Regions from separate parts of the Homo sapiens genome. Here region 2 is linked to region 1. Evidence: fine-mapped expression QTL. A gene starts in region 1. The other region holds a variant in brackets. All regions are shown on one strand. Distances are between the middles of the regions.

Region 1 (10,843 bases):
CCACACCCAGCCAAAAATATCATTTGAGACTAACATCTTTTGTATTCTTTGACAGATCACTTAGGTACAAAGAAAAGTTTAAAATAAATTTGAATAACATAATCAATAAACTCATTTAAATCTATACAACTGAAGTTTAGACTCCACAGAGGATACACTTTCTCTTCATCTCTTTCAGTAACATTGGCAAAGCTTTCCTATGTAGTTTATCTTGGAAGACAGACCGGGATGAAATCTTTACTAAAAGCCTGCCATTCCATGAGTGCTCTTCGAGTTTGGAAGATTTGGTGGTGGTTGTCATTGAAGACAGGCAGTTTTTCATATTATTGCTTTAAAATTCTTTCAGGCTAAAATTGTAGCAGCCAATGTATGTGGAGTCAAATATTGTGGCTGCAATCTCTTCTAAAGATTCAAATTTCTATTCCAAGAATCTGTGTGTGTCCCTGTACATAGTTCAAAATGCTTAAACTATATAAACATCCCTTTTGGCAGAAAAAATTTCTCATGACCTCATGGTTGACCTAAGTCACTTTTATTAAAATGTAACTTAAATATGTATACTCATAAATACCAGTTCTAAACACCTATGCTTTACAGCTTTTATATTATTAAAATGCCAAAACAATGTACAAATACAACTATCCACTTTAAAATATCAAAGTAATAAAATTAATTTATTGCAATAGGTAAGTCTTTCACATGTAACAACTCATTCTTATAATATCACCATGCAATCAATGCCATATATTTATTCCTATATTATTATAGGAAATTGAGCAGGAGAGAGGTTGAATAACTTGCCTAAACTCTCACAGCTAGTAAGTAGAAAAATAATTTTTGAAGTCAGACAGTCTGGTGTCACTTAACCATCAGAACAAATTACCCATCTCATTTTCTTTTCTTTTTTTTTTTGAGTTGGAGTCTCGCTCTGTTGCCCAGGCTGGAGTGCAGTGGTGTGATCTCGGCTCACTGCAACCTCTGCCTCCAGGATTCAAGTGATTCTCCTGCCTCAGCCTCCCGAGTAGCTGAGATTACAGTTGCCCACCACCATGCTCAGCTAATTTTTGTATTTTTAGTAGAGATGGGGTTTCACTATGTTGGTCATGCTGGTCTCGAACTCCTGACCTCAGGTGATCCACCTGCCTCGGCCTCCCAAAGTGCTGGAATTACAGGCGTGAGCCACCGCGCCCGGCCCCATCTCATTTTCTTAGATGTAAGGTACCTATTGGAGAGTTACTAAATATGCATTAAATGAAGATCTAATTCAAATATTGTTAAAATCCACAACAGCAACTTTTCTGTTGTGTTTTTACTACATCTGCTGCTAATAAATTGCTGCAAACTTGATCCATACAAAGATGAACTGGCGTGAGATCTTCAATCCCTGCCAATAGAGCAGTGGTCGCCAGGAGCTGTTCTTTTGGAGTTGGCAAGTTGTGTGTGTCCTGTGTAGACTCACTCTCTCCACTATTCCAACTCCCCTTCCCTTCACCCAGGCTGTGGCTGGAGCCACCAGGCCTGCCCATGGCTCAAATGGAAAGATACAAAGGCAAACGCAGACTCCAGCATCAGTTTCAGCCTTGCCATCAAGATGATCCAGAACACATTTTTACTGCTAATTATTTATGATTATCACTGGAATAGGCCAGGCATAGTGGCTCATGCCTGTAGTCACAGCTACTCAGGAGGGAGAGGTGGGAGGATCGCTTGAGCCCAGGAGGTCCCGGCTACAGGGAACTATGATCATGCCACTGCATTCCAGCCTGGGTAACAGAGCAAGATCCCTACTCAAACAGTCTGGGTGACAGAGCAAGATTCCGCAAAAAAGATTATCACTGGAATAAAACCACTAATGTCAGAGAATACACAGATCTTTCAAAATACGTATATCTTCAGAACCCCAGGGGGCTGAGAGACCTGTGGCATGATATCATTAGCTCATGCTGAGGGCCATTGTGAAAAACAACCCTATGAAACTTGTCCTTGTGTCTGATGAGGAGGTGATCGAAGGCATCATTTCAAACACTATGTCACATTAGGAAAAAGTTCCTTTCTGGTCTCGGAATCAAGAACTGTTGGTTGGGCAAAGTGGCTCACACTTGTAATCCCAGCACTCTGGTAGGCAGAGGCAGGTGGATCGCTTGAGGCCAAGGATTTGAGACCAGCCTGGCCAACATGGCGAAACCCCGTCTCTACTAAAAATGCAAAAATTAGCCGGGCGTGGTGACACGCACCTGTAGTCCCAGCTATTCGGGAGGCTGAGGCGTGAGAATCACTTGAAGCCAGGAGGTGGAGGTTGCAGTGAGCCGAGATCATGCCACTGCGCTCCAGCCTGGGCAACAGAATGAGATTGTGTCTCAAAAAAATATAAAACATAAAAAATAAAAAAGAATTGTTGTGTTTTTATGTTCTGGCCATATAATGTTTTGTGTTTTGTGTTTTTCCCACATAGCTGTTATCACAATTTGTAATTATATATTCATTTGAGAGATTTCTTGATGAGTGTCCATTTCTTGCATTTGTCTTTAAGCGCCCATTAGACACAGACCACGTCTATCTGCTTTATCCCTTTGTTCCCAGTACGTCTTACAGAACCTGGCACGTAGTAAGTCCTCACTGAATGTTTGTTGAGTGAAGAAGTGTGTGAATGAGTTTAACAAATAAATAAAACATATAAGCCATGGGTTCGTCAATTTCTTTTTTGCTTATGCTGCAAGAAAGTTTAGAGCTGTTTTTGTTTCCTGCCCGTAGCCATTGTAGAAGGTCTCATGCTCATGTTTTTGTATCAGCCTCACGCTTAAGACCATTTTATGACTCCACCCTTAGTGTCCTTTTTTCTTTCCCAACTACTTCCAAGTTAGGCTGCCTTGCCATATTTATGAATCCCTGTAAACTATCTTAAATCCCTTGTGGAAGAGGTGGTAATAAATAAATATATCTACTAGTCTTTTTTATATATATTTAAAATCTTAACACTAAACCCACTGCCAGCAAACACATTTGCTCAACTGTTAACCTTAAGAATAGCTGAGATTTGCTAATTCCAACACTATACTAATATTTAAAACAAATTCAATCCAAGCCTAGAAACCACAGCATATCATGTCAGGCATTGTTGTACATTGTGTATATGACAAGCATATTTCTAATAAGGCTAGGCAATTTGGTGGACAAGAAAGAACATAGGGCTTACTACAAAATTCTTATGGATTTTGGATCAAAGAATAATTTATCTTTAGTGGTTTTTCAAAATGTGTTGACATCATACCAATAATGAAAACTTTGCTTTTACTTGTGCCCTATGCAGGGAGGAGTAGGGAAGAAAGGCTGGGCAAGATCCTGATCTATAGGAGAAAAGTCTCTACAGAGAAAAGTTTGATCACATTACACAATTAAAGTAGAACCTTATAAAGTAAAAATATTAAATGGTCTAAACCCCCCTTTTAAGTCTCTAACATATATTATTCATATGCTAATGGAGATATTATTTGCAAGTCTGAAACGTCATAGTTCTCTTCTTTGGTCAGATTCATTTAAAACACTTTTACTTCAAATGCTGACTTGCTATTTTTCTCTTAAAACGGAACATAATTTTCTAATGCCATTAATGAGAACACCCCTCACTGCACAAGTTAAACATCTCAGGAATCCCAGCTAGATCCACAAACTAGACATGAAAGCAGTTGCTTGCACCCTCTCCAATCCCTTTGCTTCTGCCAGGATGCCAGACCAACCACTCCTTTTGGGTTACTCGGGAAGCACGAAATGTGCATTTAGGAAACTGAGATTTGATTTCTATTATCGATAAAGCTCATCTGAGTCAGTTGAATCTTAGACGACAAACAGCAAGAGGGAAGAGTGGGTGTAAGGAAACAGATGGGTATTAATCATGTGTCAGAGATAAATGACAGTTTTTTAAAGAATTTGATAGGGTGTGGGCTGGAGCTTGCTTTTTTATTTTCTATTTCTATTTCCTATTTTCTATTTTTAGTTTTGGGCAAGAGATGGAGATTAGGGGTGAGAAAAGGAAGGAAGAGAAAAGGCAAGACAATAGGCCAGACCCGAGAGCCTGATCTGCATCCTAAAGCAGTCTGCCCCTCCCTCCCTTCCCCCCAACACCAGGTAGGCTGTGGTGTGATTTAAAAATAAGCAGACACCGACTCCCGCCTCCGGGACCGGGGATGGCCTCCGCCCCGGCTGCAGAAAGGGAGGGGAGGCAGGGAGAGGAGAGGGAAGATGGAAGAAACAGACTGGCAAGACCCCCTCGGGTACAGTGGGATTTTTCCCTCCAAAGTGGTGGAGCCGCATAAAATCAAAACCCACGAGGCCCGCTCACGTGCCGGTTGCCCCGATCTCAATGTAGGCGGCTGCCGACGCCGCACCTGCTCGGCCGGCCACTGCGGCTGAGCGCCGCGCAGCCAGCGATCGCGAGGCCCCGGGGGACGCGCCCAGCCCCGCCAAGCCCGCCTCGCACCGCTACCCCGGAGGGCGGCGGCCGAGCGGGAAGGAAAGAGAGGGGAGGGGAGGGAGGGGAGGGGAGGAGCGGCCCCGCCCGGCTAGGCGAGGCGAGGCTTGCCGCCCCTCCATTCGGACCCAAAAGAAAGCCCCACCTGTCAGGCGTTACGCTCCGGGCGAGGGTCCCACCATCCCCAAGCAGGGGCCAGTGCTTGCAGCCCCGATTTCCTAAGAGCCTCGGATGCTACATCATCACCAGAAACCTTTAGGCGCAAAACACACCGCTGCCGGCCAGGGCTGCAGCACCGACGCGCTCGGCAACAGACGCGCCCCACCTGGGCCAAGCGGCTCCCGCCCGGCCGAGGGATGCCAGGGTCTCCGCGCCAGGAGACCAGCGACCCCAGGCAGCCCACCAGGCCCGCTCCCCAGACCCTTACCTCCTGCGCGGCATCTTAGCTATCTCCGGTCGGCCACTGCGGGTTGGTTTTGTTATTTTATGGGTTTGGGGGGTGGGGTGCGCTTAAAAAATCCACCCAGCTAATCTGCAGGGCAGCGTTTTCTGCCCATGCTGCAGCCCGCGCTCGTCAGAGCTGCTGGGAGATCCCCCAGCAGTGCAGCGGCTCCGCGGCGGCGGGGATGACTGGCCACCGACGCCGCAGTTCCTTGACAAAAGGCTCGGGTTCCCGCTAGTCCCTCACAGCCCTGCCGTCAGAATTAAAGCCATTTCCCGCACGAGGCTGGGAGGAAATGAGAGCTCTCCTGGCCCTGCGCGCTGACAAAAGGCCGCTGCGCGGTGCCCACAGCGCCCCCTCCAGCAGGCCGCGCCGGCCGCCCGAGGGCCGCGGTGCTGCAGTGCCCCCGCCCGCAGCGCCCCCCACCGCCCCGCAGCGGCCTCGCCCCGCAGCACCCCCACTACCGCCCCGCAGCGCCCCCCTCCTCCCCGCAGCGCCCCCGCCCGCGCCGCCGCAGACCCCCCTAGCCAGGCTTCCAGCCCCCTTCCACCCCCGCCCCGCACCACTCACTACCCGGGATGGCCAGAGCTAAGCAGGGGAGTCTGTTACTAGGGAGAAAATCTGAAACAGAGCTCCCTTGGGGGAATGTATTCTCCCTGGAAGGAAGAAAGCAAAAGTCTTAGACTTGGAATATTTCTTTTCGTCTGGAAAGGACAGCTAGCCTTCGGAAGATAATTCTATTAGTGATTTTAATAGCAATTGTTTGACTGAATTCCAAACCAAAATTCTCCCTGTCCTGATTCTCACTCCTTTTCAACCAGGACAACATTTTTGTTGTGGCCCTGCCCTTGGGGGCTGTGGACCCAACGCTCTCCAACTCTCACTACATTCTCCTCTCACTCCTTTCCTTCCTCAGGTCTCCCGCCCCAGAAGGAACAGGTGTGTAGTGAGTGGGGAACTGGATAGGGAACCAGAATACTTCGGTTGCCGTCTCAGAGCTGCTCTTAACTAGCTGTGAGACCTTAATCAACCCACTTAACCTCTCTGGGCCTCGTTGTCTTCCTCTGTAAAATGACAGTGTACCTAAGGCACCTCCCATTTCCAATACTTTCAAGGCCTGGCCCTCAGAGAGTAGGGGTGTTAAGAGATAGCTCTGGACTTTTCACCCCCATAATCTCCACCAGTCCCCAAAACTCCCCTCAATCAACATCCTCTCCAAGGGCTTTTGAAAATGTGCTTGTGAAAATGTACAGCTTCCAGAAAAGCCTCTGGCCACTGATCTGAAACCTGATCATGGCCCCTCTGCCCTTCCAGGTTCTGGGGCACCACAGCCCTCAGACACCCCCACAAAAGTCACTGGCCCCCACCACAGTGCTGCTGTGGAACCAGAATCTCTGGAGGTAGGCTCAGGATTGGTAATTTTAACAAGCAGCCCTAGTGATTCCTTTGCACACTAACACTTTAGAAACACCACTCTGAGAGCTACTACTGATTTAGAAAAGAAAATGCTAACGACAACCCTAGATGCCAGGATAAACTTGTCTTTCTGCTTCAGCCCCCCTTCCAAGAAACATACATGCATACCTGGTCCCTGCACCCTCCTTCCACACTCAGAGCTTCTCACTCATTCTCATTCAGAATCACCGAGTCCACAAGACTTCTCCCCATTCTCCTGTCAAAACCTGCTAGAAGAATTACAACAGGCTCAGCCACACAAGATGAAACCCCTTCCCCTCCCCACCCCAGGACCTAGGTCTGTCTGGTCAAAGAAGCCAGGACGTGTTATGTTTATTGAGTCATTCCTGGCAGCCATAGCTCTTTTGGTGCTAATGGGTGATGAGATCTGAGAAACAGGGAACCCCTTCTCCAGAGCTCAGAAGTCACAGGTAAGGTGGGCTCTATATCTTAATAGAACCCCCAAAAAGAATGGAGAATTTTTGTTAGAAATAGCAGGTTTCATAAGTCACCCCAGTCATTTCCATCCCCCAAAATTTCTCTTCCTAGTGTGTTATTTTGTTTTCTCACATGAATCCTAGCAAACCCTTGTTGGTTCCTGGCACTGTTCTGAGAGCTTTACATGCATTTTCACATAATCCTTGCAAAAACTCTGTGAGGGTGGTACTATTATCATCCCCATTTTATAGATGAAGAGACTGAGGCACAGGGATGTTAAGTCGCTTGCCCTAGGTCACACAGCTAGTGGGTGGCTGAGCAATGAATCAAACTCAAGTGCTGTGGCTCCAGAGTTTGTGGGCCCTAACCACTACACTGCATGGCCTCCCAGAGGGGACAATAAACTTTTTTTTTTTCTTTTGAGACAGAGTCTCATGCTGCCCCCCAGGCTGGAGTGCAGTGGCATGATCTCAGCTCACTGCAACTTCCTCTCCCCAGGTTTAAGCGATTCTCCTGCCTCAGCCTCCCGAGTAGCCGGGATTACAGGCACGCACCACCACACCCAGCTAATTTTTGTATTTTTAGTAGATATGGGTTTTCACCATGTTGGCCAGGCTGGTCTGGAACTCCTGACCTCAGGTGATCTGCCCGTCTCAGCCTCCCAAAGTGCTGGGATTACAGGCGTGAGCCACCACGCCTGGCCAAAAATAAACTTTTTAAAGCAGAGCTGGTACAAGACACTGAAAGGCTGATAAGACTAATACATTCTCCTTCCCCCCGGCAAAAAAAAAAATGATTCTGCTCCCCTAGTCATCACAGGAGATACATATATATATTTATGTTTATATATGTATATATTATATATATTACATATACACAATATATATTATATATATTACATATATTTTTATATATATATGTCCGGCCTCTCCCAGGGTCTATCTGATACTGCATACTGAGAAGGTGGTGCCATCCTGGGACTTTAGGAATTGTCCAAATGTCAGAGAGGAAATAAGACTTCATTAATTCCCATATTCATAGCCTATATGAAATTTTAATTGAAGTTCCAGAAATTCTCAATTTCAAATTCACTTCAAAATCCAGGAAAAGGAACCACAACTGTAGTTGGCTCCAACTGTCAATGGGAGACCAGGAGACTTCAGAGCTCCCACTGCAACAAGCCCAAGATGCCTGGCCCTTAACTGGGGCCAGAAAAACACAAGAGACCCCCATGTCAGACCGGGGAAAAATCACAGCTGGCTAACCCTCCATGGCCAGATAGTTTAAAATTAGACTCTCTGACTGATTTGCAGTAAAATTTCTCATCTTCCAAGTCTTCTGACAAAAATGTTTCTGGCCAAGAATAACTAGTAGAGAGAGAAGCTGGCAGTGCAACAGTGAGCCCCATCTCCTGGTATCCATTGCCCTGTGTATTACCCTCTCCTTAGGTGCTGGCACGACTGTGGCTCACTTCTAACCGACAGGATAAGGCAAAGATAATGGGATGTTCACTTCCGTGATTACATTACATAAGATTCTTTGTCTTGCTAGCAGACTGTCTCAGTTGGCGTCTTGACCTGCATGCTTTCATTAGTAGCCATGTTTGGAAGATCTACATGGCAAGGAACTGAGGGTGACATCCAGCTAATAGCCAGCTGGAAACTGAGAACTTCAGTCCAAAAAAGTCCTAGAGGAAATGAATCCCACTAACCATCACATAAGTTTAGAGGCTGATCCTCCCCCAGTTAAGCCTTCCACTGAGAACCCAGCCCTGGCTGACACCTTGATTTCTGCCTTGTGAGAGACACTGAAGCAGAGGACTCAGTTAAGTCATACCGAGACTCAACTCCTGGCCACAGAAACCATGAGATAATAAATGTGTTGTTTTAAGTTGCTTAGTTTGCATTAATTTGTTACACAGCAATAGATAACTAATACGGGGGCTTAGCACTCTATAGGCCCAGGCATGCTTATCAATGGCCTTTTCTAGGGCATGCTGGAAATGCTGGAGAAATCAACACCCCTGGGATCAGCCCTCAACCAATGACCATTAGGAGTTTGTGGATAAACAGCCTGGCTCCCTCATCCCTGAGAGTTGGGAGAATACCTCAGTGTTCTCCATTGTCTCCCAGAGAGCCTCAGCAGGATTGAGCCCCAGCTGCCCACAGCAGTAACCTACCTGCTCACTCACGCATCTTTTATGGGCTTTTCTTCCCTATATCACTTTCCCACTCCCTTACAGGTGCCTCCCGGGCTTGCTTCCCAACTTACACTCAAATCGTAATCTACATTTAGGGGAACCCACTTTAAGATGGGGCAAGGGAAGGAAGACAGTGCTTTCAAAGGAAGACCACTGATAAGTTGTAAGTCTAGATGTTCTGAAGATACCCAATAAATGAAAGTTCACCTCTATGGCTGATGCTGCTCTGGAAACAGAAGTGAATTGGGAGTCCAGGGCCTAGGGCTCCAATCTCAGTCCCAGGGAATGTGTGGACTTAGGAAAGACCCTGACCCCTTATTCTCCCTTACCCAGCTATAAAGTGAGGGTGACAGCACTTGCTCTCTGTTATGGGCTGAATCTCATCCCCCTCAAATTTATGTGTTGAAGTCCTAGCCCCCAGTGCTCCACAATGTGACTGTATTTGGAGCTAAATCCTTTAAAAAAGTAATTAAGGTAAAATGATGTCATATATGTGGGCCTTAATCCAGTATGACTGAGGTCCTTATAAGAAATTTGGACACAAACTGGCATAAAGGGATGACCATATGAGGACACAGCAAGAAGGTGGCCATCTACATACACTCCAAGAAGAAATCATACCTGCCCACACTTTGATCTCAGACTTTGAGCCTCTAGAATGGTAAGACCACACATTTCTGTGGTTTACCATTACCATCTGGGATGCTTTGTTATGGGAGCCCCAGAAAACTACTACATCCTCCACCTGGCCAAGGTTGTCATGTAGACAAAATGGGACGCCAAGTGAAAGCACTTATGGTCTTATTACCTATTGAGACAGCCAGACAGTGTAACCCCAGCCACACCAGGAAATAACCAGAGTGGTTCCAGAGACAAGAGAGCCCCAGACTCCAGTTCCCACCCTCATGTTAGGTCCAGACCTGGAGAGCTGTGGATAGAGCTCTTCATGTTGAGCCCTGATAACATGTAAGTCCCTCTGGGGGAGGCCTTCCTGTACCCGATGTTAAGTGCACTAGTTCCTCCTACCAGCCCACAAGAATTTTCTTTTATGATCACTGCTTGCCCAGCAGGATTTATTATTCTGCAGTTCTTATTCCTAGAAGGTGCTAAAGCTTTCAGAGTCTGTCTTGAAACTTGGAGCTGATGCCTCAGATAGACCCAGGGATTTGTTCCTGGTACCATGACTCTCTTACTACCCAATGCCCCTCAGGCAGCTAGACCCAGCAGATGGCTCTCATTCTGATTCTGAGGAATTCCGCTTAGGGTGTGTACAACTCACATCAGTAAGGGCTTCCTCATCCTTACCCCGAGACCCAGTTCCATTACAATGCCACATTCAAAAGAAATAATCCCACTGCCAATGCCTTGAAAAGTTCTGCAAGTCATTGAATAGACGGAAAGGAGAGGGAGCAGGGGAAATTCTCTCTCGTCCTCTTTGTTCAATGTAGTCCCACACCAGTGGAAGTTATCCCAGGAATTCCTAACCCTTCTCCTACCTTCCAGAGCTTTTCTTCTGTAGGTAGCTCTCTTTCCTCTCTAATAAAGATGGTGATATGGTTTGGCTGTGTCCCCACCCAAATCTCATCCTGAATTGTAGCTCCCATAATTCCCACTTGTGGGAGAGACCCAGTGGGAGATAACTGAATCATGGGAGTGGTTTCTCCAATACTGTTCTCATGGTAGTGAATAAGTCCCATGAGATCTGATGGTTTTGTAAGGGGTTTCCCCTTTTGCTCGGTTCTCATTCTTTCTTTCCTGCCACCATGTAAAACGTCCCTTTGCTCTTCCTCCATCTTCCACCAGGACTGTGAGGCCTCCCAGGCCATGTGGAACTGTGAGTCCA
Region 2 (10,843 bases), 110 kb before region 1:
ATTGTGACGTGATTTTTCTCCATGCTTACTCTTAACACAGTGAGATCTCTATCCAGATTAGAGTTCGCTCCTGTCAGAGATGTGCATCCCCCTTGTGCAAAGGCACAAATGAAGAGAAAAGGAACATTTTCTATTTCTTATGGTTACATTTTGCCAGATTTGAGATCTAGTTATCTGGGTGGCAGTGGTGGAATCCACAATAACTTGGCTGAAAGTTTCTTTTTTTCATATTTATCCAGGTAGCCAGGATTAGGGGGGCCACGGTGCCCTTCCTTGATCCTATCTGGATTCTGGTGCTTCACATCCCTGACTCTTCCTCACTTCCTCGTTACTTAGATCTTGCAAATAGGGTCCTGGCAGTGTGAACCCCAGCACTTTCCTCATTGTTCTTGAAACCAGGAGGGGCCTCCACCACATTTTCCTGACGATCTCTCTGCCACCCTCACTGCTCCCTCTGAGTAGGAGCTATCTCAGCTGTAGGTCCTTCCCACTTCTTCTCCAGCCTGACTTTCCTTTCACATGTAGTGAATTGTGGGTTTCACTTCCTGCAGTTTCAGTTACCTATGGCCAACCAGGGTCCAAGAAAATTAAATGGAAAATTCCAGAAATAAACAATTCATAAGCTTTTGTTGTTGTTGTTTTTGAAATGGAGTCTTATTCTGTCACCCAGGCTGGAGTGCAGTGGTGCAATCTCAGCTCACTGCAACCTCTGCCTTCCAGGTTCAAGCAATTCTTCTGCCTCAGCCTCCCAAGTAACCTCCTGAGACTACAGGCGCCCGCCACCACACCTGTCTAATTTTTGTACTTTTAGTAGCGATGGGGTTTCACCATTTCGGTCAGGCTGGTCTCGAACTCCTGACCTCAGGTGATCCACTCGCCTCGGCCTCCCAAAGTGCTGGGATTACAGGGGTGAGCCACCGTGCCTTAAATTGCGTGTTTGTTCTGAGTAGTGTGCTGCAATATCTCATCATCCCATTTGTTCAGTGCTATCTACCTGGGAGCACAAATAACCCTTTGTCAGTGTATTCACGCTGTCTACACTACCTGCCCACTAGTCACTCAGTAGCCGTCTTGATTATCAGATTGGCTGTAACAGTATCACCATGCGTGTGTTCAAGTAATGCTTATTGTACTTTTATTACAGCACATTGTTATAATAGTTCTAATTTATTATTGTGAATCTCTTACTGCTCCTAATTTATAAACTTTCTCAGAGGTATATATGTATAGGAAAAATCATAGTGTGTCTAGGGGTCAGTGCTATTTAAGGTTTCAGGCACCCATGGGGGGGTCTTGGAAAGTATCCCCAGCAGATAAGGGGGTACTGCTGTATATGCGCTGGAGAAATTTCTTAATATCTCTGGCAGATAGAGGGCACTCTGCTCCTACATTAGTTTCCCTTTAGTCATAGTGCAAACTTAGGAAGAGTTCAACTTGTGGGTTTGCGTGACAATCTTTTTTTTTTTTTTTTTGAGACAGAGTTTCGCTCTTGTTGCCCAGGCTGGAGTGCAATGGCACGATCTTGGCTCACCGCAACCTCCGCCTCTTGGGTTCAAGCAATTCTCCTGCCTCAGCCTCCCAAGTAGCTGGGATTACAGGCACCCGCCACCACGCCCGGCAAATTTTGTGTTATAAGTAGAGACGGGGTTTCTCCATGTTGGTCAGGCTGGTCTCAGCATGATAATCTTAAACTGTAGCAAGCTTTATAAAGTGGTGTCAGCAGATTGACTATTGTCCTTGACCTGATCGATGTACACAGCTGTGAGAGCACACAGAAGTCATATTCCTTACAGGTGGATTCCTGGGTGACTGCAGCAAGGGAGAAACTGATGGCTTTGGGGCACCCGAGGGGCTGGGTTCCTTGTTTCCAAGTTTACAGGAGCTGTGGAAACTTCAGGATACCTGGATGCAAGAGGAGGAAGAGGGGCTCTACCCTTGGATACAGGCAGTCTGTGGAAAGCAGACGTGCCCATAACAGTGGGCCTGAGAGTAATGACGGGGACTGCTCTTGTGCTCAGGGCACCCGGCAGTGAGCAGCAGTGGAAAGAGCCAGGGCTTGGTTACCTACAAGACCTTAGCTGAACTTGGGCTTTACCACATATTAACCTGTGGCCCAAGAAAAGTCTCCTTACTTCATCTGTAAAGTAAGTAGTAATAACAGAATCACCCTCTGGGTTTTATGGGGGCTCAGTGGGTGCGATGCATGAGATACTTAAACAACACCTGCCACATATGTGTGGATACTCAAGGAATACTGAGCTTCCACAGTAGTTTTTGAATAAAGAGGAGCCAAAGGCTCTCTTTCCTCTTTTCTCTCTTCCTTTTTCCCCACCTAGTCTCTCCATTCTCCTTTCACCCCTTGGGGTGACTTCTTAGCCCTCTCCAAGATTCTCACTCTGGCCTGACACCCTCTTCCATTCCAGCCTATAGATCTGCCGCTGCTGCTGCCCTGCAGGGCCGTCCACATGTGTGTTTGTGCAATGCTCCTCCCCTATCCCAACCCACCTAAACTGAGCTTCCTCCACAGAGCTGTTTCAAATCCACATGGCCATTTCCTTTTCAGGAGAGTCTAGTATTTTATAACCGCCCTTCCCAAATCAGAACACAAGTAGACACATGTTCAGCTTTCCGTGTGTGAGAAATGGCCTCAAGGGTACAATTTTCTTGCGTGGTCCATGTTTCCACAGGGCCCCCTTTCTGACTTCTCCCCTGGGAGCCAGGAGAGCTGAGGAGCCGACAGAGATGGGGCACACACACTGGGAAGCCAAGCACGTTAGATTTACTAGGGTCATGTCTGCAGGTGAGGTAACAGCACACACATACAGAAATTCACGGGCAGAGATGCCACCGCAGCATCACCGTCAGACACCAAAGCAGCAGGAGGGCTCAGGAAGTGGCTTTGGAAAGTTCTCGTGAAAATCAAAGGGCAGCTTTGGTGCTCAGAGATTCAAACAGAAAACTATACAAAACCAACCCATAAATATATATATATATATAATATGTGTATATATATAAAATTGCAAAATAAAAGCCCAAGAAACTAACCACCGATCTGCACGTCAGTGGCTCAAAAAGTGTTAGCATAGAGAAAGGCAAAACCATCTGTGGGGGTGATGCATACTCAAGGGGGCCGGCATTTCAGTAGCAGAAAGAGTATTTACATGGAACCCCTATTTGAAACCTCACAATACTAGGAAAAGCTAAACACAGACAATGTATGTACAAGGGAAGACAGTAAGTACTCTTGCGTGACGATTGTCAGACACAGACATTTCACTGAAACCATCCATAGCTTTAGAGAACACTGCATTCTATCTAGACTGGGTTCCTGCTTGCCTGCACCCCAGCCAGGCGATCTCAGGCTCTGGACCGTATGTTCTCCCCCACCTGGCCTCTTCCCGGAGAGAGCAAACACTAAGATGTTGGTTGCAGCATAAATTGCAGGAATTTAAAGGTGGGGCAGTCCTTGGGTATCAATCAATCACCCACAAAGCAGGACCAACAGGTGTGAGGTGGAGTGGAAGTGTGGGGGTGGGGTTCCCTGAAATATATTCCCATTTTATAATGTGTTTCAAGTGTGGCCACTCTGCCCTTGGTCCAATTGCCATCCTCCTTCTGATTCACGTTAAAAGGGGAGATCTGGCCTTTGGGTTTTTAAACATTATACAAGATAATTTGCTGGGGGAGAGAAGAGTTTAGGGTCTTTCTACAGTTATTCTCCCACCACCCCCCAAACTCTTACGTTTTCTTTAAACTACCTAGAGATAAGCAATTTGCCGATCACAGCTGGCCTCAGTTCGGGACACAGTGGGTGAGGAGAGGAGCCCAGGACCTGACTCTACTAGAAAACTGCCAGTGCTTTCTCACACTGAGCCTCAGACTCCAGCTCTGCCTGAACCCCTTCCCTGCACCAATAATGATCATTTCTCCCCCATCTGCAGGCCCCAATTTCCCATAGCAATGACCCAACTTTTGGGAAAATCTAGAAGGTAAGTGGCACCAAACATCAATATAGCCAAACCTAATATCACCTAAGTATGAACCAATGCGACCCATTGTTTCTGTATACATAAGAACACTCCCAGCTGGAGATTCTTCCTAATTGTTCCTAAGATGAAAAGCCTACATTCTCAAGGGAATTGTCTCTATAAAAATGATGAAAGGTGTTCTCCACTAAGGGACACCCCACTGAAGTCCCCACACTGCTTCCCGGTGAGCGTGGCTGCTCATTGTGAGAGGTAAAGGGATGTTGGGCATTCCTTGGTGACCGAGCTCTACGTGTGGTCTCTCATTTATGACAGAAAGTGTGCCACATCTGAATAGGTTGGTTAGACGGGGCTTCTGGAAGTAATTACACTCCATGTACGCTTTCTTATGTTATGGTGCAAGTGGAAATGTGCACAGATAACCAATGTGCACATTTCATGAGTTTACAGTCACTACAGGCCTCTTACTTCTTGCATTAAACTATCCCTTTCAGAACAGATGTGAAACAGATGATAGGCTGCCTCACTGGCTTTTAGATTGTAGGGTGCCCTGTCCTTTCTGTGGGAGTGGAGAGCTTAAATTTAGCCTCTCCCTCATTTCTTTTCAGACTCTTTGAGTGCTAAGGTCTTAGAGTTCAACTGAGCTCCAGTGATGAGAGAGAATGTAAAAAGACCTGTTTCCTCTATGCTCAGTCAACTGCGACTGTGCCAACCAACTCTAGGGCTTCTGCTGACCTGCATGTGTAAAATGAGTAAGGGGTAAATGTTCTCTCATTTGTTCACTAGTCAAGAACTGATTACCCTTGTCCCAAAACTAGAACATAAAATTCACACAAAAGAAAAAACGTGTCAGCTGGCACAGTGGCTCATTCCTGTAATCCCAGCACTTTGGGAAGCCGAGGCAGGTGGATCACGAGGTCAGGAGTTCAAGACCAGCCTGGCCAACATGGTGAAACCCCGTCTCTACTAAAAATACAAAAATTAGCTGGGCAAGGTGGCGGGCTCCTGTAATTCCAGCTACTTGGGAGGCTGAGACAGAAGAATCGCTTGAAAAACCGGGAGGCAGAGGTTGCAGTGAGCTAAGATTGCACCACTGCACTCCAGCCTGGGCAACAAAGAGCAAAGCTCCGTCTAAAAAAAAAAAAAAAAAAAAAAAAAAAGAAAGAAAAAGAAAAAACATGTCATGCAGACCTATGCGTAGGCTGTGTGTTTACCCTCCACATACCTTCATGGAAAAATTGAAAATTATTTTTAGACTTTCAGAGGCGAATCATGCTGTTGGGCAAATGGTTCTTTCAAATCCATGGCAATCAAAGAAGTGGATTTATAGCATTTTCCCCCACACTAGCAGTAGCCCTGCTACAACAATGCCAAACATCTGAATGACTGTCTTGCCATGTCACCATGAGCAAGTGACGGTATCATCCACAGGGAATGGGATTCAAATTCAGTCTACATGGATCAGTGGCAGAGGGCAGTGCTTTACAGTGGGGTTCTTACTGTAAGAACTTACTGCTCTTCATCCAATTTCCCCCAAGTCCTTTAAAAAGAACTTATCTGTTCACAGAGGAAGAACCCTGTTTTAGTTATAGGAGAGTGGAGGGGGTCAACTGGCCAAAGTAGGACAGTTACTTGGGTTGCATGCAGGCCAGGAGGCTCTTAGGGAGTCCAGATCTGGGCTAGAAGGTGTCTCTTTCTGCAGTTTGGGAGGAAGGTCACATGGTATGGACGGTTCTCTCACACCACTGTTGGGTGCAGCCAACACTACGCAAGGAGCCGTTGGAGCCAAGCCTGTCTCTGCGAAACCACTAATCCTTCTTGTCCTCTCTCCTCCTGCCTGCCTTGCGATGGAAATAAGCTCAGAAACCTCTCCACTTCCCAGCTCAGCCAGCCACAGAGCAGCACATTGGTTCAAATGTTACCCTTTTCTCTGGCACATCCAAGCACAGTAGCTCAACCAGACATGAACCTACTGCCCACCAAATCTGAGCTCTTGAATACACATTTTCTCCAGTCAGATA[T/C]TGGTCAAAGTTTTCAGCCAACTTTTATCCACAGCCAAAGAAAATGGCCTTTCCTTTCTAATAGCCTGTAGATTTGTTTGGACCACATGTCTGTTTCTGTAGCATTTGGTGCATGTCCTCAAGCCTGGAGCTAAATGTGCCACATTCTGTGCAAGGGAAGAAGAAATGGCAGGATGGCTGGACACCTCTCCCAGCAATTCTACACCAAGACAAAATAAAACTGGAAACATTAGCTCTTTGAATGCTCCCCTCTCCTTGTTGAAAATCCCTCTTAAGGTGCTTTATCCAAAGACTTTTATGGAAATAAATTTTGTGTTGGAAACTCACTATCTGCTGTAGAGGAAACATCGTGTAAAGCAGGCCATCAACTATGTTTTAGTATTGACATTTCAAAAAGGCCTCATAGCTCCCATGCCACCATCCCACGCCCATCCAGTCCACAGTCTCCATTCAGCCACCAAAGGGATTTTCCTAAAATGCAATTCTGATCATGACTCTATCCTGATTTAAAGGCTCCAGTGGCTCCAAACCCCTTCCATGACAAGTCTAGCTCCTCCACACTTCCTACCAGTTTCCTTAGGATTCAGCCCTGCCTACCTATGAAGGGACCCCTCAACCCCTGAGCTTCCACATCATGCTCTGGCAATGCCACGTTGCTCAGCGGAACCCATCATGGCATTTCATGCGTCCACACCTTTGCACATTCTTCCCTCATTGTGGCATGCCCTGCCAATCCTTTCATTCTACTGGAAATTTACTCTTTGTTTTAAAACCTTAGCAGCCATTGCTTCTCTCAGGGTTTCTCTGGTCCCCAAGATAGTTAATTGATGCTTTCTTATGCCACCTTGGTACCCTTGCCTGTTTTGCAATTTGTCTATACACCTCCTATGCTCATGAACTTCTTGAGGGCAGGAACTATGCCTATCCTCATGCCTGGCCCTTGACCCAAGCTCAATGCATGTTTTTGGAATGCATGAGGAATGAACCAACTGACAGGTTCATCTATCAATAGAAAGTGGGCCCATGGCATAAATTCCCAGAATAATGCTGCAGCAAGACTCCACCCAATGAGGCCTAAGTGAGGCCTCATTGTCAAGGGAATAGAGTGTGTTGAATGCAGAGGCAATCAACATCACCCCCGAAGTAGAACAACTCGCACACAAAAGGCTGCATCAGAGGTCGTGTTCACCATTCTCACAACATCGTTTGCCACTTATTATTCTAGTCATAATGATGGCTCTCTTTCAACGTCAGCATAATGCCTGGTGCTCAGTGGATCCTTAACAAATACCATGTAAGGATAAATGAATAAGTGTGAAATCTACTTTTTAAAAGAAGGCATCAAGGGATTGGCTTTTAAAGGCATTTCCCATATGACAGATTTTTCTGAGGCATGAGTGGGTTGTCCCTCCTAAAATTTGACCCAATCAGGAAGTAGAACAGAGATGGAGCCTGGGGTAGCAGTTAGGAATCTGCACTAGAGAGACACAGTGTCAGGTTTACCTTGGTCCTAGGTCAGTTTCCTTCCTTCTCAAGAAATAGCCAACTATGGATGGTATTTCCCGCCCCAACCAGAAGGCTCTTGCCTCTCCTTTGTCAGAGGCACACAGTAGCATCACCACAGTCCACATTGACCAGGAACTTCACGTGCAGTGATGAGGATGAGCACAGGGTGTTCCCTACCTTTGCTTCACGTGCTAACATTATGCAATGGAGAACAGTCATAGAGACAAATCCTGGATGAAAACCACCACCCCTGGGGATTAAAGTTGTCTGTTCACCATAGCTGTTAAGAGCAAGGGCTCTGGACTCAGACTGACCTGGATTCAAATCCAGGATCCAGATCTTTCTAGCCAAGTCAGCTGGGACAAGTCAATTATCATTTTAGGGGGTCAATTTCCTCACCCACAAAATGGGAATGATCTTACCCCCCTCAAAGGATTACTGTGAGGGTTAAAGAATGTAATGTATGTGAAGCCTGCACAGTGTCTATAGATAGCAAGTGCTCAAAAGTGGAAAACTATGATTAAGAACTTTCAAAAATATTTTCACGATAGTCAGATCAAAAGGAAAAATATTCTTTCAAGACACGGTGCTTTCAAGAGAATGGATTGTCTAATTTTTAGGAGCCAACAAATGCTCATTAATCAATGCCCCACGGAAGAACATGAGAAGACAGTGTTGGCATTTAAAACAATAACTGTGGCCATTACCAGGCCCCAGGATGGACAGATAGGGACAAGGACAGGGATACCCAGCATTTCTCTGAGAGCTGGTGCAAGAGGATTAATCCTGAAGGGCTCATTTCTGATTCTCCTCTGCTGGACAAAGAATGACTGAGTTGGAACCTCAGAGGGTGCAAGTCAAGGTGCCAAGAGTAAGATGCCAGTTTCGGTCTGTAAGCAAGTGTTTCTGGGGGTGAGGGAAGGTCAGGGGAAACCTGACCACTGGACAGGAGTGAGGCAGGTACAGTGCATTGCTCCAGGTGTCATGCAAAGCTAGAAAGTCAGCATTTCCTCTGTTGTTTTGATCCTCCTTATACAACCCAAAGCCAACAGAGGATTTCAACTTCCCCAAATTTCTGCCCTGAGCATTAAACAACTTTTTCCTATGCTAAATTTGGTTTTAGTTTTGAAGTGCCTGAGATGCACAATTCAAAGGGGTCAAGTTCCTGGCCTCTTATGTTGATGAAACCATCCCCAATCCTCAGCTTACATGGCTTGCCCCTATGCCTACCACCTCTTATAGCTCTTCCATCCATCATTCAAGAGGTTCCATGAAGAAAGCTCAGGGTTAATGTTTGGGGTAGTACAAGCTAAGCCATCAGCCCTTGGGAACAAAGATTACTTTCTGTTGGAGGGGTCAATTTGGCTAGTCACTTTGAGCAGCAGGGCAGGGACCCAAAGTGGAAAAGAGAAGAGATTTTTAAATGTAGAGATAGCTCCATCCACAGGAGATTGGATTCCTGGGAAGAAATGGACCTTACTCAGGGGAAGCCTTGACCTCTGATTTAGTCTGAGCCTGTGAGAGCTCACGGCCCATTTCTGGCCTTCTTGCCCTAGGCTCAGATTGGTGGACAGCATCCAAACAAAGGCAGCCCACAACTAGGCAGTGTTGTGTAGTAGAAGGAGCACTGGACTGGAAGTCAGGAGACCTGAATTCGAGTGCAGGCTCTGCCGCTAACTAGCTGTGTGACCTTGGGCAAGTCACCTGATTTCTCTTGGGCAACTGTAAAACGAAGGGTTGGTCGGGTGATCTCTAAGTTCCCCTTCCGAATGTGGTCCAGGGTCCTACTCTATCCCTCCTTAGCCCTGTGCTTGCAGGGACAGAGATGGGAGAAGGGAAGGGGAGGAGAGAGAGGAGGCAGGAGGGAGCCCAAGGGTGTCATGAATCAGGACTCCACTTTCTCCTTCTTTTTGCTCTTTTTCAGGAAGGAGGGGGTTCGGAATTTCTTTTTCTTCTTTGAGGGAGACTTGGAAGGTGAGCCCTCTGGGGACATGGGGCCGCTGGTGACCGACTCGGTTTTGTCCTTAGAGGTATCAACATCCGTGTCAGCACTGGTGGTCATCTGGCTCAGGCCTTTGCTGAGGATTTCCTCTGCCGTCTGCTCCTCCTCCCTCCCGTTGACCACCACCCCTTCCGGCTGGGTTGTTTCGGGCTCTGTGGTGGCGGCTTTGCTTGTTTCTGTCTTCTTAGTACCTTCTAGAAAAAGATCAAAAGATATGACCTGTAAGATTTCATTCAGGTGACAGCTTCCACCTGGGGCTAACAGAACCATTTCTAGGGAATTCTATAAAATCAATCCAGAGCGAGGGGAGGGCCAGCCTGATGTTGAGGGATGGCTACCAGAGACAGATGGAAGGACTGGGTTCTGATCTGCACCTTCCATGTGGCCTGTCCTGGGAACACCCCCTTGCAGGCTGGCAGCTCTGGGCTCTTGTCTATGAATTTAGATGGATATTAATGTCTGAAGTGGCAGGAGGCCCGGCTGGGGTCCAGCTCAGAGTTTTTCTAGGCAAGAAAGAAGAAACAGACACAGAGAAAGGAGAAGGCGTGAGGTGTACAGCTTGGTGGAGACATCTAAGCATTGCTGTAACCAGTTTAGTTTCACCAATAAAAACATGGAAATTACATGTCCTCAAACCCATTTCATTTTCTACACCAGTGAGGAACTCCAAGAAATATGGAGAATATCTTCCCAGTAGGCAGAGGGAGAGTGGAATTCCTTATATAACACAGACCCCATATTTCCAAGACATGTTAGTCAAAAGGGGAAGACCCCTGGTCAGCCCTTTCTAGCAGCCACTGGGGCCCCCAGGTCTTTATTCCACCTGGGAATCTGTCGGGATCGCGGGAATGTTCAAGGCCAGAGTTACTCAGGCCCCAGAAACCAAACCCTCCTGCCACCCTTTCTCCCCCTCCCCACTCTCACTCAACCTTGCTTCCACACAACCTTTCAGATGCCTGGATGGGGTGAGAGTCAGGGAGATTGTAAAACCACAGACTGAAAAGTAGAAAGCAAGGTAAATATTATCTGATGCCTCTCCTCCCCACTGCACAGTTAAGAAGGCTGAAGAACACAGTACCATGGTGGGCAGACCTCGGCTTACCAACTTCCGGTTCAGCTTCTTCTCACGACGGGAACTGAAAGGAGTGTGTGTGGGTGAGCACGTGTGAGTGTGTACAAGTGTGTGTGAGTGTGCAAGTGTGTGTGTGGGTGTGTGAGGGTGTGCAAGTGTGAGTGGGCAGGTTGTGTGTGGTGTAAGTGTGTAAGTTTGAGTATGCAAGTGAGATTGTTTGCCATGAGTGTGTCTGTGTGTGTGGTGTGAGCATGTG

The links.
Region 2: its variant is fine-mapped to the expression of ADD2 in cerebral cortex (GTEx, PIP 0.98).

The regions. Positions count from the first base shown.
Region 1 is chr2:70,762,994-70,773,836 of GRCh38, forward strand. ADD2 (adducin 2) reads right to left here and starts at 5,207. Exons shown (of 16, transcript NM_001617.4): 1 at 4,893-5,207. RefSeq lists enhancers at 4,342-4,907, 4,908-5,473, 5,883-6,447, 8,530-8,579.
Region 2 is chr2:70,654,027-70,664,869 of GRCh38, forward strand. It overlaps ADD2 (adducin 2), which reads right to left. Exons shown (of 16, transcript NM_001617.4): 16 at 2,758-9,709. The coding sequence ends at 9,399. Among named protein-coding and RNA genes, the nearest start is that of TGFA, 110 kb to the left of the region's middle. The variant T/C (reference allele first, on the strand shown) is at 6,008.